Homo sapiens: one gene and its partner. The protein of the gene in region 2 purifies or fractionates together with the protein of the main gene of each other region. This does not show direct contact. Each region holds a gene or a part of one and is shown on either strand. Other genes may lie near its edges. The genes, in order: ARL6 and RREB1.

Evidence for each region.
Region 1: the proteins of RREB1 (region 2) and ARL6 purify together in Homo sapiens (affinity purification with mass spectrometry; one large-scale study listed by BioGRID and IntAct). This does not show direct contact.

The regions. Positions count from the first base shown.
Region 1 is NC_000003.12:97,777,991-97,781,813, reverse strand, and holds part of ARL6 (ADP-ribosylation factor-like protein 6), read right to left. Parts: intron 1,656-3,823; coding exon 1,594-1,655; intron 1,200-1,593; coding exon 1,131-1,199; exon of another isoform or gene 1,127-1,130; intron 1-1,126. UniProt on the Homo sapiens protein: Involved in membrane protein trafficking at the base of the ciliary organelle. Mediates recruitment onto plasma membrane of the BBSome complex which would constitute a coat complex required for sorting of specific membrane proteins to the primary cilia.
Region 2 is NC_000006.12:7,110,763-7,114,585, reverse strand, and holds part of RREB1 (ras-responsive element-binding protein 1), read right to left. Parts: intron 1-3,823.

The DNA of each region.
Region 1 (3,823 bases), on a different chromosome or scaffold from region 2:
GTGTTTTTAAGTTTCAGACTCTAAAAGTGAAATACATTGCTCTTAAATGAAGTCCTAACAATATTAGAAGCTAATGAATTTATTTTATTACCATATGCAAATCTCCAGAAGGTATAACACATTTGGGTCCTAGTAACTTGACAGCTATTAGTCTGAAGTATAGTCATCCCTCCGAATTGGCGAGGGATTGGTTCCAGGATCCCCTTCAAATACCAAAATCTGCAGATGCTCAAGTCTCTTATATAAAATGGCTTAGTATTTGCTTATAACATATGCAAATTCTTCCATATTCTTTAAATCACCCTAGATTACTTATAATACGTAATACAATGCCTACATATGACCTCATTTATATGCTTTCAATACAGTAGTTTGTGCACGGCAATTTAAGTTTTGCTTTTTGGAACTTTATGGCATTTTTCTCCCCAAATATTTTTGATCTACAATTGGTTTAATCCAGGAATGCAGAACCCAAGGACATGAAGGACCAAGTGTAAATTAGTGAGCACTTGACTTGCATATGCTGAAAAATGGCTTGTTTCAAATTATTCATAGAACAATGGATCAACTGTTAGGCAACACTGTTATTTTTAACTAAATTTAGTCAATAATATTTACTGGCCTATATGCTGAGCATCATACTAGGTCTTGAAAAAATAATATGAATAATAAATAATCCCTTCCCTTGAGGAGTTCACACTTCCACTAGGGAGGCGGCTATGGTGCATAACTTCAAGACATGGTAAGTATGATTAGAGAGATAGAAATGGACAAAGTGCCAGGTGAACAATAAGGACAAAATAACTGGGCAGAACAGTGAAACTTCAGAGGAAAGGACTTTTAGCTGAGTTTTAAAGCAGGAATATGTTAACCTTAAACTGAAGTGAAGTAGGATAGAATGGGGCATTAAAAACAGAGAGAATAGTACATGCAAAGGCCCGAAGTCATGAAGGACCTGAAACATTTGACAAACAATGTTGAGTCTCATTACATATTTTTTAAAATAGGAAATGTTCATAAATTACATGAAAAAAAAAAGCCAAACAACCTAGCCATATAATTCTTTGGATTTCTAATCATTATTATTAGTAAAAACCATCTAGTTAAGCAACATTCACAGATGTACTTACTTATAATAGTGTTCCCAGAGATTTCTGTATCTTCCTTGACCTGACATGTCAAACACTGTAAATGACAAACTACAAAAAGAAGCAAAACATGACTACATTATAAACTAAAGCATAACTTTTACTTAAAATTTTAAATTATTTACAATCAAAGAAATTACCCTTCATATGCAATATTCAACATGTGCCAATTTACAAGTAAAAGTTCTATGAAATAAATGTATTAATATAAACACAATTTTGCAATAAATAACATAAAAAACTTCTTTGCTAGTGAAGTTATCAGAGTTTGTCTAAACTCTAAATTCTGAAAAATAAACCAGCCATAGTGGTTAGAAACACTTTAATACCTATGAGATTCTGAAACAACAAATTACTTTATCTAAGGGTAGGAAGAATGACCAGGTAGACCTAATATTGTTATTTTTCACTAGCAACTTTTTTGTTAAGGGATAAAGTGGATTACCTGGATGATTTGAATTTCTCTATGCTGAATCCTATTGTTGGAAGGATATTTTGAGATTGAGCCTTTAAGAGAAAAGACAAAGTTCAGAAATTTACAATTACCAGAGATGAGTTTTCCTCAAGTTAAAGTATCCAGATTTTCAGTTTCTAAAATCTGTCACTAAGGAGATGATAGGATTTAACAAAGTTATATAATTTTTTCAATAGGATCACTCTGTGTGAATTCTTTATAGAAGTTTAAGGTTTACTAATTATGAATCTGCATAATATTAATTCACATTTGTGGCTTGTGGCATGCTACCAAGGACATAAGCGTTTGTTTTATAAGTGGTTTAATAAGTGTTTTTTTTTTTTTTGAGATAGAGTCTCACTCTGTCACCCAGGCTGGAGAGCAGTGGCGCAATCTCGGCTCACTGCAAGCTCCACCTCCCGGCTTCACACCATTCTCCTGCCTCAGCCTCCCGAGTAGCTGGGACTACAGGCGCCCGCCACCACGCCTGGCTAATTTTTTGTATTTTTAGTGGAGACAGGGTTTCACCGTGTTAGCCAGGATGGTCTCGATCTCCTAACCTTGTGATCTGCCCGCCCTGGGCTCCCAAAGTGCTGGGATTACAGGAGTGAGCCACCGTGCCTGGCATACTTTCTAATCTTTCAACACATACGTGAGTTTGTATATGTTCCAGACTGCCCTCATGTGTAGATGGTTCCTGCCTTTATGGAGTTTACAAGCTAGAAGATGTAAATAGAACACAATTTTGAGCAGAGATAAGTGCAAAAATAAATGTTTTGGGGGTGGGAGGCAACAGAAAGGGGCTGGAAGGTGGCATGGAAGAAAAGTGCTCAGGAATGGTCTCTCTGAGTAGGGGCCATCTGACCCAGGAGTGAATGACAGGAGGGGAAGAACCATGACAAGTTATTGACAAAGAACAGTCCAGTCAGAGAAATCTGTCAGTGCAATGATTCTGAGGAAGGAAGGAACTTGCCACTGAGGAAATGCAGAAAGCCTAAATGTCTCAAGTGTATCGGGTAAGATAAAGAGTGATATGTTGAGGTAAGGGCTTGAAGGCAATGGTAGGGAATTCTGCGTGGAGAAGAGATTGAAAGGGGGCTAGAGTACAGCAGGAGACATGTTGACAAATCCCACTGACAATTAAAATGTATTATACTAACAATCTAACTTGTTAAATGCCTCCTAGCACTTTCATCAGAAAAACTATTCCTCTGTTTGAATAAAAATATATCTACTTTCTGATCCAGATGCCTAGAAATTATTATTGACTCCTCCCTTTTTTTTACATTCTTTATGTAATCATTCTCTAAGCTTTTTGGTTCTATCTCACTAACTTAGTTCAGACCCTTATCATTTCTTGCTTTGAATTACTGTACCAGCCTCCTAATTGCTCTTACTTGCCTTTGCTACCTTGAACAAGTTACTTAATTTTTCTAAGCCTGGTTTTCTCAAATGTGAAATATATTATTATTATCCTTTACTCATAAACTTATCATGATAAGTAAATAAGTTAATGGATGTAAAATACTCAACACAGTAAATGCTCAACAAATGTCTGATATTATTATAATTACATGCTCACTGATTTCAGTCTCTTCCCCAATTCTTCCCATATTGTCACTATAACTTTAAAAAAAACTCCCTTCAGTTCATCTTGTTGCTTTTATAAAAAAACAGTATTAGAGGGGAAAATTTTGCCTCACACTATTACATTCACTCTGGTAGTCTACTTCTGGGAAATTTAAATTCAAGGAAAGACAGAAGCTCAAAATTCACTGGAGCTTGGTCACTTTAATAGCATGGTAATGCACTAGTAGAAAGGCCCTCCAGAGCTGCCCTTGTTTTGCCTTTCTGAAGTTTGTTTACTTAGCTTTTTCCTTTTCCTTCTATCCATTCCAAGATCTGATCTAGTATTTTTCCAAAAATATATTTTTGTTTATGTAAGACAAAATTCATTTCCTGCCACTAAGATTCCTGCCTCATACCTTGGGTTTCCTTCATTTCAGAACAACCTTTGCAATAAGAAGTTTCCTAAGTTTTAATGTTCCCCCAACTTCATTATTTTGATTTTAAGGGCTTTAAATGTGCCAATCATTGTGAAAAAATCATCAGCTACTACTATGAGGAAAAAGACACCAATAACAAAATAGGAAGCTAAAGTTTAAAGAAGTCTCAAAAAATGTATATTAAAATAGCAACCCTGTCTTCACTGAATTATAAT
Region 2 (3,823 bases):
AACCTCAGCTCTGCTGACGTATGGGGGTCGTTCTGTGCACTCCAAGATGTGGAACAGCATCTTTGGGGTCTATGCACTAAAGGCCAGTAGCAGCTCCCCGCTGCCGCCCCCCCCCCCACCAGAAACACTTAAAAATGTCTCCAGACAGTGCCAAAAGTCCCCTGGGGGCAAACCCACCAGGTTGAGAACCACTTCTTCAAAGAGTAAGCCCCAAGCTTGTCATCAGCTTTTTCCTTAAAACTCATCCCTCACCCTGATCAACATGGTGAAACCCTGTTACTACTAAAAATACAAAAATTAGCTGGGCGTGGTGGTGTGTGCCTGTAGTCCCACCTGCTCAGGAGACTGAGGCAGGAGAATCGCTTGAACCCTGGAGGTGGAGGTTGCAGACAGGCAAGATTGTGCCACTGCACTCCATCCTGGGCGACAGCAAGACTCTGCCTCACCTAAGTGAACCACATTAAGAAGAATTTGCTAGTCCTGTTAGTCTCCCAGCACTAAAAACAAAAACAAAGTGCTGCATTTCCCCAATCTGAACATAAACTCCTAGGCAAAATTTGACTAAGGTAATGGAGGTGTGCAAAATTCTGGAAAGGAAATCCAGAATGGATACCCACAAAGCTTCCTGAGCTCAAAATATACCACTTTCTTCCGTTTATAGATTTTGACTTTCTGGAACATCTACTTTATCCTTACAACAATCTCATGAGGTAGAAAGGCTACTAAAAAGATACATGTCATCACAGTTCATCAACAGAAATGCTACCAAGAGCAGAAGTGCTTTTTAAAATTTCCTTATACCTTCAAACTCAATTAGGTTTATTTTGAAAAGGATCTGGTCTTATTTAAAAACCACACACCATACACATGGAGATAAATAGGCAGTATATATTTAATGCTGCTAAGTCCTCCTGAGGTCAAACTGACTCTAAAAAGCAGCTGTTCTACAGGGCTAGGCTGGAGTTAGGAGTTCTGGGTTCCAAGTTTGATTCATTAACAGCCCCCGGGTGGACCACCGCGCAGCTGTAAAATGGGTCAACATACCCACCCAACTCCCACAGTGTTCCTCTCAGCATGAACGTGGAATCTTTGCTAAAGGCCTCCACAAAAGCAGGGTGAAATTAACTAAGTCCTAGAAGGTATATCTGAATGAAAAAGAAAAATTTTAAAGTGATTAAACCACCAGAAGTATCAGACACTTTCATAACAATTCTATCCCATAGTCTCTGAAAAGGGGGAAAGAGATGAAATACCAAGCAAACTAGAGAAAAACAAATAGAGCATTTAAAAGCTTTATCTAATTACCCCCACTGAGACGTTTTCTCTTCACTCTGGCTGTCTGACAATGCCTGTGGGGGTTTTCATTCTCTTTCTCCACCCACCCTCATGATGTCTGCAAGCCCTCAGGTGAATCCCTGCAGGAGCAGTCAGGACCCAGTCCCCAGTCCCCGGACTTCACAGAGGTTTTCGAATTCTCTTAGCTTTACTGGCTTGAATCACACTGAACAAACAATCTCCACCCTCTCCCATGCTTTCGTCTGAAGCACCTACTCACAGTCAGCCACCTCTACTGATGGGCAGACTGGCTAACTTCAGTACCCTTGAAGTCCCACCAGAAATAAGATGCACCGATCGCTCCCAGTCTCCTCCTCCCCATCCGCTTCACCCCAACCCGCCACTGCCAACGGCAGAGTGCAATCCCCAGCTACACTCGGCTGCAGTTCAGACCACGCTGAACACCAGAGAACGTGACAAGAGAAATTGGGCGGAGCACAGTCGATGACATTGCCGACAGGACTGCTAACAAAAAAGGAAAAACCCCTCTCCACCTTCCTCATTCTTTTACCTCCGTAGTAATGAAAACAACAGTAGTTTTCTTTTCTGTATTCTGCCTTCTATGGGAGTGGGGGAAATGAAAAATAAGTGATGCATTTCAGAGAGCACACCGTATGCCTCCCTCTGGGTTTCATACGGTGTACCTTTTACCTTTGATATAAGGTACCTGCAACCCTGCAACCCTCACCCCCCTGTGGAAATCACTGTCTGACCCTTGCTCTTTGAAAACTGCCATGGCTACTTCTACTCAAAAATCACTGTCTAAATCAGGAAAGAAAGAGAGAAAAGAAACAGAAAGAAAATACATTTATCAATTTCTTAATTATATTTGGACATAAAAAATATGACTCAACACTGCCTGTTCAATAGGTCAGATGTACAGAAATTAACCTTGAAGCAGGGAAACTTTTGGCTTACAACAGGCTTACCATTCAACCAAGAGATGATAGTTACTCATCATGGCTTCAATTAGATTTCAACCATTTTATCTCAATGAAAAACTTCAAGATACTTGAACATACTTTTGGCAGAAATGTAATGTACATCACACCTATTTTTGTTTTCTGACATTTGGCCAGTCCTTCCAAAGATACTCTGAACCTAATATAATTATTTTTAAAAAGATAGCTATGAACTGGGCGGAATAAACTGCACTAGGGAGGTGGAATGAAATGGAGGAGAAGCCCTATCAAAACCTAATCTAAGGGAATGGTAATCTCAGTAAAGGGGGAAAGAAAGCTATTGTCCCCTTATCAGGACAGACTACATTGCATACTTTCTACTGATACTAAATTGCATTTCTATCTTTGAATACAAATCTGTTTCATGCGGAATAAAAGACATAACTTTATGGATTATGCAGAATTTCCAAAACAAACCATGGAATCAGTTATTAATACTAGAAATAAGAGGGTACTATACACACAAATCCTCAGGAAGGTTCAACCTGAACACACTGGTAATAGTCAAGAAGTCCACCAGACAAGCTGCCATCTGACACCACAAGGCTGGTCATAGAGTACTGAACTTCAATTAAAGACACTTACAAAAGAAAGAGATTATTTAAATATAATAACAAAACCAAAACAAACTTTAACATCCTACCTTCCCAGGTCAAAGGACATAGAAGATTCAGAAATTAACTAAACCTAGTAAATAATGTAAAACAGGGAATGACTCCCTTTCAAAAATGCTTTGGTTAATTTTAGCATCCTTCTGTTTAGCTGCTTAGCAACCCTTATCCTATGACCTTCTAAGCACCACCTACTTTTCAGAAGGATAATGAACAGAAACATCAAAAGAATTCACTTCTGTTTCCAAAGAATATATTTAACCAATTCTTATAGGAGTTAAATTTATATTAATTATGCTGAGCAAAATCCTAAAAGGGTAGCATTTTAAAACTTCATTAACTAGGACATTTCCTTAGCTGAAGGTGATAAATGATGTTAGCAAGCAAGCATAAGATAGCAAGCAAAGACTTCCTAACTGACCTCAGAAGTGGAATAACGCAACAGTTCAAAATTGAAGAGCAAAAACGACCTAAGGCAGCTACACTGTACAGTGCCTGGCACACAGCAGGTAACCAATAAACTGCTGTTGATCAGATGCTGGACTAATACGTGTAGGTTTATTTTCTTCCTTCAACACGCTGTACCTGTGTTGGATACAAATAAGGCCTTGGGAGTCTGCCCGAAGAAATTTAAAAGACCCTTCAATCAAAAGGTCGCTTGTTGGATGATGTAACTAGTTAGGAATGGATGCACTACCTGTACCAGCTCAATAAGACGCATGTTCCCCATCACATAACAAATACTTGTCTGCCATAAGGGCTTAGAGTCTGATTTTCTGATGAGAAATAAAGCAGTATCTAGAAAAACCCAGAGAATGATATTCCACAAAACGGTAAGCATCGGCAGCATTTCTTAAGAGTATTACACATCCAGCAAATCCTCTTTAAAAACAAGACATTCTAAAATGCAACCAG